2 separate regions of the Homo sapiens genome follow, and region 2 is linked to region 1. Evidence: fine-mapped expression QTL. A gene starts in region 1. The other region holds a variant in brackets. All regions are shown on one strand. Distances are from middle to middle. Region 1 holds the start of TIAM2 (TIAM Rac1 associated GEF 2). Region 2 overlaps TIAM2 (TIAM Rac1 associated GEF 2).

Region 1 (4,392 bases):
AATGGTCTGGAAATAACAACTTCTGAGTAGCTTGGTGTGTCTAGAGCAGGCAGTGTGCAAGCGGGGGAGAGCCAGGAGGCCTGGGGAAAGTCAGTAGATGGAACTGGAAAGGCAGGCAGGTGCCACATTATGAAGCATCTTAGTATGGTATGTGAAGGTGTTGAAAGCTGATTCTGAGGTCATTAGGGGCGTGTTTTGCCACAGTAAATAATAAACTCTTCTTCAGTTATACCTTGCCATGTTCTTTTACATTTACCCAACACAAAAACCTCTGACACCCTAAAGCAACAAGTTTTATTTTCCTATAAAGTGAGCAGGTAAAATCCGGTGGAACAAAAGTTTGCTTACAAAACTGCACCAATCATGATACTATATTTTTAAAACATAACAATCTTAAGCACATCAGGAAATACTTCTAAGAGTGTATACACACAAGTTCTACTGGTTAAGCCCAAATTATAAAACCATGGACACTTTTTTATCCAGAGCCTAGGACTGAAACATTTATAGCATATGATCCGCACCTGTACGAAACTTGGTAAGATTTTAGAGACACTCTGGCTTAAATCTATTGGAAAGAGAACTGGAGATAGCCGGTGTTGTCTGTTAAAATAAGGTGGTCAGCATCATTTGGGGAGCAAAAGGTAGAATGTGTGAATAACCATGAGAAGAGAATCCCAGGCCCTTCATCGCATAGTAAATAAAGGTCTCACCATTACCCAAGGAGGCTGAGGAGTGTCACCAAGTGGCCTCTTGCCTGAATTCTGCAGAGAAAAGCAGGAAAACCTCCCCCTGAATGAAATTATCTTTGGAATCAAGCAGCCTTCTCCCTCTTTAAATAAAGTTAACCTATTTGTCTATTTTAAAAAAACGGCATGCAAGCTCATCAATATTAAATTTCGCCGCTCCTTAAAGATAGAAATACCTCGTGCAATGTTACTCCCAGACCTTTCCAGCGGCTGTCAGCAACGAATGGCTGGAAGAATGGACTCTTTTCTTTCTGAACTGTTTTTGGTAAATAGGATCCATTAGGGGCACAACGTGTCGGCTTTCACAGAAACTTGGCACCTCAGCCCCCCCAGGAGCCGCGCCCGTCCGGGATGGCTCCCGCGCTCGGAAAGGCCGGAGGGGCTGAGCAGGGACCGCACGGTCTACACTCGCTGAGCCGACCGCCTGGGATCCTGCTTCGCCGCAGCGCCTTTCTGAGGCTCCGAGGTCGCCGGGCGGGCGTGGGCGCAGCGGGCGCTCCCCTCCGGGCACCCACGGCTCGGCTTTGGGCGAGAACCTCGGTATCAGGAGGCCGGGGCGCCGCCTCCTCCCATCCGGGATGGGACCGGGGCTGAAAGTGGGTCCTGGCGTGTCGCGCAGCGCGAGGGGACCAGGGGACCTAGTTTCAGAGCCTTCTGGAAAGTGCTTCGTCCCCCGTGCCAGGCTGTGCCCGGACGCTGCCGCCCTCCGGGGAGAGGGTGCCAGGCCGCGCCCCGCAGCCGCGACCTTCCGCGGGACTCCCAGGAAAGCGGGGGCAGAGAGGGGCGGCCAACAAAGGGGAAGGGAGGGGACCGCCGGCCGCGCGCCGCCCCGCCCGCAGGGGACCTGGAGCCGCCGCCAACCAGCGCGGGTCGTCGCCCTCCTGCGCCCTCACCCGGGCGCCCCTTACCTCGGGTCGCGCGCCGGGCTCGGTGGGGCCGGTCGCGCGCCGCCCTCCGCTACCCTCGGCGCGTGGCCCTCGCGGGAACGCCGGGAGGAGTTGGAGAAGTTCTGGGGGTCACTTTGTTCTCCACTTGGACGCGCGCTGTGCGCCTGCGGCGGCCGCGGCCACAGTTACGGTTACCGCTGCCCCAGCCCCGCGCGCAGCGCCTGCCAGGCCCGAGCCGCGACCGCACCTCCCGCCCCGCCCCGCCCCGGACACGCCCCAGCCCCGCCCAGCGTCAGGCCCAGGACCCCCGCGCCAGCTCCCGGCTGGTCCCGGACCATGTCCCTCGCGCTTTCTTTGGAACAACACAAATAAAACAATTCAAGAAACATCGAGCACGCGCTCACTGTGAGCTGGGGGCTCTGCCCGCTACCGGGGATGCGATGCGCCAGTGCGACCCCGTCCCTTCCCCAAGGAATTTAAAGACGGCTCTTCCCGGGTCCCACCGAGGAAAGGCACGCAAAACTGAGGTCAGCGGCCGCAGAGACTTTCCATCTCCTTCCCCTTCTGAGAGGAGATGGCTTCGCAGCGGAGATGGCAATCGAGTCGGCACTCCAAGACCCAGTCGAATTGGGACTTTCCAGGTGGAGAAGCTGCGATTTTTATTATTATTTTTTCAGACTGAGTTTCGCTCTTGTTGCCCAGGCTGGAGTGCAATGGCGTGATCTCGGCTCACCGCAACCTCCGCCTCCTGGGTTGAAGCGATTCTCCTGCCTCAGCCTCCCGAGTAGCTGGGACTACAGGCACGCGCCACCACGCCCGGCTAATTTTGTATTTTTAGTAGAGATGGGGGTTTCATCATGTTAGTCAGGCTGGTCTCGAACTCCCGACCTCAGGTGATCCACCCGCCTCGGCCTCCCAAAGTGCTGGGCTTACAGGCGTGAGCCACCGCACTGGGCCAAAGCTGCGATTTTTATTAGAAAAGCCTGAGTGGCCCAGTGGGCCCAGATGCTGGGAAGGGCGAGGGAGCTAAGGAGACCCAGGAATGAAAGCTGCCTGGAATCACTCTCCTCGCCTTGAAAAAGGCTGCACCCTGGAGAGGAGAGGGAAGGGAAGGTAGATGCAGGCCATGTGTTAGGGTGGGTCCTACGAGAAGCAGCGCCCACTCAGGACTAGATGCGGAGGGTTTTCTTGGGGGAAATGGCCGTGGAACTAAATGAGGAGGGAGCCGTGAGAGCTGGAGAGGGCCGGACCTTCTGCAAATCAGAGCCCAAGTGAAGGAGGGAGGGAAGCACCCATCCCGGCCTCCCTGCAGTCTAAGAAAAGCTCAGCAAGATCATCCGTGAGCCCTTCAGCCAAAATTACGCATCATGGGGATCCCGATTCTCCCCGGAACCTGCCTGCCTTCGTGTCCATGCCGCCACCAGTCCTTGGCTGGGAGCGGCCAGGTGGGAAGGGTGGCGTTGGGCACAATCCCAGTGCTGGAGTTCAGAGCACAGCAGCCAGGGCCCTGGTCAGTTAGGTGCAGTGCGTGAATACGACCCAGTCTCCGTAACGGGAGATCCGTGGAGAACTGTGAGTCAAAAAGACAAATGAAATCAGCTTTCCCACAACACACCCAGTATCAAAAGGAAGCCTCCAGGCTTTGCGGGGATCGGACAGACCTGCTCTCCACCCTCAACCACCACAGGCTCTGTACACACCGAACTAGTAGTGACTGGCCCCTCCCACTCTGTAGGCCCTCCCCTGGTCTTGTCTGCATCTTTGCGCACTTGGCTCTGCCTAGGAAAATATCTTCCCACTCCACTCACTCTTCCATGCTCAATTCAAGCATCACCTCCAAAGACCTTTTCTTCCTTGACATTTATTTACTGTTTTGTGGGTGGGGTGGGGGGGGGCGGTGCTTGCTTTGTTTTGAGATGGAGTCTGTCTCTGTCGCCCAGGCTGGAGTGCAGCGGCACGATCTCAGCTCGCTCAACCTCCACCTCCCGGGTTCAAGTGATCCTGCCTCAGCCTCCCAAGTAGCTGGGACTACAGGCATGCACCGCCACACCCAGATAATTTCTGTACTGTTAGTAGACACGGAGTTTCACCATGTTGGCCAGGCTGGTCTCGAACCCCTGACCTCTAGTGATCTGCCCACAGCCTCCCAAAGTGTTGGGATTAGGGTGTGAGCCATGGCGCCCGGCCAACACTTATTTACTTCTTACTTCTGACTCACACCTACCACACTGAGACGGGGGGTGGGGGGGTGCTGGTATGTGTTTATTTTTCTTGCTTCTTTTATTGCATTTTTCGCACTATTTTAAAATATTTTTCTGATTATAAAAGTAACATGTTTGTTGTACAAACTTGAAAAAATATATAGAACCCAGATGGCTCTAATTCCTCTCCTCTTGTGAGACACCATCCCTTGACAGCCAAGTAACCAGAGTCTGAGCTCCCATACCACCCACGTGTGTACATATGGGTCCAACCAAGAGAGAGGCTACACAATGATTTCAACAGTGAAAGTTTAATACAAAGAATTATTAACTATAACGGGACTTGGAGTAGTGGGGGATTGACTAGGTTAGTAAGAAAGACAAAAGAAAATGGGAAGAGCAGGCCAGGCGCAGTGGCTCATGCCTGTAATCCCAGCATTTTGGGAGGCCGAGGCGGGCAGATCACCTGAGGTCGGGAGTTAGAGACCAGCCTGACCAACATGGAGAAACCCTGTCTCTACCAAAAATACAAAATTAGCCGGGGATAGTGGCATA
Region 2 (4,392 bases), 230 kb before region 1:
CTGGTTTCAAAAAAATTGTAGCTTCTGGGAGGAAAGTTATAAGTATATAAAACATCAATTACATGTTAATATCCTGGCAACCTTAATTAAGCAGGGGTACTGCCAAGGGCTACTTGCCTTAAAGTGAGCACAGATACCCTGTGTGCCCCTTTAATTATGGTTTTTGTTCAGTGTTTTTTGCTGGATTTGAGTAATGCAACAGTCACATCTGGCACCCTCATCAACAGGTTCTCAAAATAATGATAATCTTATATGGAACAATACCTATCTTTATTTATATAAGTATTTATCTGAGACTTTACCACTCTATAATCTACACTGACTTCTAACAGAAATGGAATAAGATTTAAACTAAGACAACTATCATTTTCAATAAATAACTTGACAGTTTTGATCAAACTTCTTAAAAATAGAAATCAATAAATACATGGGAACCAAAGCCAGGTATCCCTGGTGGTGAGAAGAGCTGGGGATCTAGAGAAGGCAGCAGAACCAGGACACTCAGGCAAGAAAAAGATGGAAGAGACAGAGTGAGGGTGACAGAATGTGAACAGAGACTTTCTTTAAAGCCCCACACTTAGAAGTTACCTGTAAGCCTCACGTTGTATTACTGCTTGATGGTCCACCTTTCCCCATCTTGGTAACTCATCTGTATAAGCCCCAAATTCAAGACCTCGGTGCTCAAATGAGAGGAAGGCAGAGCACCAACCTGTCCTGATGGGTGTGTCACCCGGGCCCTCAGACTGCCCTTTATCTATGCCTGAATGAACCAAGAAGGGAATAAACTCTTAAAAATCCCAGCTGAGTGCATTGGCTCATGCCTGTAATCCCAGCACTTTGGGAGGCCGAGGTGGGTGGATCATCTGAAGTCAGGAGTTCGAGACAAGCCTGGACAACATGTCAAAACCCCATCTCTACCAAAAATACAAAAATTAGCTGTGTGCAGTTGTGCATGCCTGTAATCCCAGCTACATGCGAGGCTGAGGTGGGAGAACTGCTTGAACCTGGAAGGCAAAGGTTGCAGTCAGCCAAGATCGCACCATTTCACTCCAGCTTGGGTGACAGAGCGAGACCCATCTCAAACAAACAAACAAACAAATAAATAGAAAATCCCAAAACCAGCTGAGAGTGGCATGCAAGGTAGGAAGATGGCAGGACTCCTCCAGGCATGCAGCATTTGTGGTTTCTGAGCAGTTGGTGATGAAATCCCCGCTGTGCAGATGCCAGGCCAGAACCTTCTAAGCAACTGCACATCTCAGAGCCTCCTCCTCTGCCAGCTGTTTTCTGAAAACACCAGAGGACTCAGGTGGCAGCAAAGAATGAGAGAGCGCAAAGGCAGGTGAATAGCAGAGGCGGCAGCATGCGCTGGAGGCTGAACAAACACAGTCGGGGTGTGGAAGGGGCAAGAACCAACGAAAGGATGAAAGAGGGAAAGAGAATTGGGGGTGCCTTTAAAACAAACCTCCATTCTCCTCCTTCCTTCCATACTAATGACACATCCATGTTTTTCTTGCCCTTTTCTTCATGTTATTATCAAGACAGCAGGAGACGGATTTACAAAACGAATGATCCCATCTTAACCTTCAGCAGTTAGAAGCTAGTGTTTGAGATGGTGAAAATACCATCATGTGTACCTGGATGAAGCACTTCCAGGCAGAGTTTTTCCATGACCCCTCCTCCCTCAACTCCAGACACATCTACTCATGACACACACATCTACTCTTAGCTGAGTCTATAGAGGAAATTGCAAAATGACTCAGAACAATTTCTCACAACTTACTTTTGCAAAAGCAAAAGCAGCCACCACTGTGGAGCCGGAACTTTATCACAAGGTGAGAATCTGCTATGAGTCATGAAAGGCACAGAAAATGCCTTGAAACTCAAACACATCTTCTTTCACTCAGTACAAGGTTTTCATTGGACTACAATCTCTACGCAAGAATATTGACAGAAGGCAGCCAGGTGACGATTTCAGAACTTTGAACAATGGCAAGCATCTGAGCAGGCCTCGGTGAAGGGGATTTAATGAGTGAATGAATAATGCGACACTACACCCACCCCCCTGGGTAAATATTAAAGATCGGATGAGATTCCAGGCACCCACACAGTGGCAAGCCAAAATTAGATAGTAATTGTGCCTATTACTTCTTTAAAAGAAAAAGGGCGAACGACAACAAGGGCTTAGCTAATTTGCTGACATGGAAAGGGGAAGGGTGAAATTCACTGGCAACGCCCTTGCCGGGGAACACAGGAGCCACAGCCACCTGAGCGTCCCTTACGCTGAGCATAAAAAACACCCCTCCTAGTCCATCAGACAGCTATTTATTTTACTAAAGAGATCCATAAAAGTTTGGTTTGGGATCAAAATGTTAAAATTCTTACTCCAAAAAAAAACCCATTTTGTTCACTAATGATAGAAAATAAAACTTTCAAAATGCCAAAACATCCCAGCACGTAATGCTGCGATTGGTGTTTAACAACCTGGGTTTGCATCCATTGAAGTGCAGAGTAAAAAAAAAAAAAAAAA[G/AG]AAAAAAAAATCTGGGGATGTCTAACCACCATCATCAATATAATCTATTCTGGTCTCAACCTAATAATTTATTTGCCATCTAGGGGTTGTTATTTATTTAACGTTCCTCAACATCTCTTAGCACATTAAAAAAATAAAGCATTAATAGCTAATCTCACCCAAGCAATTAGACTAAGATAAAAACAAAGTTCAAAATATCACTTGACTATATAAACACAGTGCTGTTCATATTGCAGGTACTTGATAACTGATTCTGCAATATCAATAATATTAAGACACAGGCTAGGCTATTCAGATGTTTACTCAAAGTAAGGATCACAAACTGACGGTTCATAAATTCCTAACAGGGAAAGCTGTGAATAAACATCGTAAGACTGGGGAGCTCCCTGGAATTGTCTGCAATTTCTAACGTATGTGCATAAGCAATCTTCTGGGGACCCATAGCTTTCCTCAGATTCTCAAATGGTCTGCTTGAAATAAGTTCCTAAATAACGTAAGTGCATAAAAGAGCAGAGAGCATCTGGAAATACGGTATCTAACCATCCTGACCTTCGCATACCATTACCTGAGAAGCCTCCAAAAATCTTACAGGTTTTAGCTTCAATGAAATGCATGAAGGACAATAAACGACCGAAGCAAATTCTAATAGGGTTCTGCTAAGATTCTTCTTCTAAGCAGCTCTCCATATTCATGGGGATAAAAAGGGATATCTAGCAGAAAGCTGCTTTGGATCAGGCATTCAGGCAGAAAGACAGACAGGGAGAGACATCAGGGCAGGACAGCTGGTCAGACGGACCCTTGAGTTTCACAGATAGGGAAGTTTGACAACTTACCCAAGGATGAAGAAACGGCTCCTCAGTGTAAGACTTAGGGCAAAAAACCCATGGTTTTTTTTGTGTTTTTTTTTTTTGTTTGTTTTTTGTTTTTGAAACAGAGTCTTGCTCTGTCATCCAGGTTGGAGTACAGTGGTGCAGTCTTGGCTCACTGCAACCTCTGCCTCCTGGGCTTAAGCAGTTCTCATGCCTCAGCCTCCCGAGTAGCTGGGATTACAGGAACGAGCCACAATGCCTATCTAATTTTTGTATTTTTAGTAGAGATAGGGTCACACCATGTTGGCCAGGCTGGTCTTGAGCTCCTGGCCTCAAGTGATCCACCAGCCTCAACCTCCCAAAGTGCTGGGACTACAGGCGTGAGCCACGCCCACCCAACCCATGTGTTCTTACTCCGAGTGTACCCCATGTCGAGGTGGCTTCCCCAAAGAATAGGCAAGAACAGGCCGGGTGTGGTGGCTCACGCCTGTAATCCCAACACTTTGGGAGGCTGAAGAGTGTGGATCACCTGAGGTCAGGAGTTTGAGACCAGCCTGGCTAACATAGTGAAACCCCGTCTCTAGTAAAAATACAAAAATTAGCTGGGCATGGTGGCGTGCACCTGTGGTCCCAGGTACTGAGGAGGCTGAGGCATAAGAATTGCTTGAACCCGGGAGGCAGAGGCTACAGTGAACCAAGATCGCGCCACTGCACTCCAGCCTGGGCAACAAAGTGAGACTCCCTCTCAAAAAAACAAAAATAAATAAATAAATAAGAAGAAGAATAGGCAAGAACCTGCAAATGGTATTTACACTGAGGCTAGTTTGGCCTGAGAAATCAAACTTCCTGCTTTCTTCTCCCACAGAAAGCAAAATTATATCAAGGTCTCCATAGCTCCATCTCTAATTCAGAAGCCCAGAAAGGAAATAAAGATCTGGAAATAGAGGGCTGAGGGGCATGGAGAGGGAAGATGGAAGAAAGAGGACAGACATGGGACACTTGCCGTTCAACCCCATCTTCACTGTCATCCAGGTGGACAAAATTAAAGGGGAGACC

The links. PIP is the estimated chance that this variant, and not a neighbour inherited with it, causes the effect.
Region 2: its variant is fine-mapped to the expression of TIAM2 in whole blood (INTERVAL, PIP above 0.99).

Annotation. Positions count from the first base shown.
Region 1 is chr6:154,992,758-154,997,149 of GRCh38, reverse strand. It overlaps TIAM2 (TIAM Rac1 associated GEF 2), which reads right to left and starts at 1,835. Exons shown (of 27, transcript NM_012454.4): 1 at 1,658-1,835. RefSeq lists enhancers at 728-1,333, 1,334-1,941 and silencers at 1,578-1,657, 1,748-1,887.
Region 2 is chr6:155,221,663-155,226,054 of GRCh38, reverse strand. All of the region lies in intron 15 of TIAM2 (TIAM Rac1 associated GEF 2), which reads right to left. Among named protein-coding and RNA genes, the nearest start is that of CLDN20, 40 kb to the left of the region's middle. RefSeq lists an enhancer at 1,102-2,301. The variant G/AG (reference allele first, on the strand shown) is at 2,528.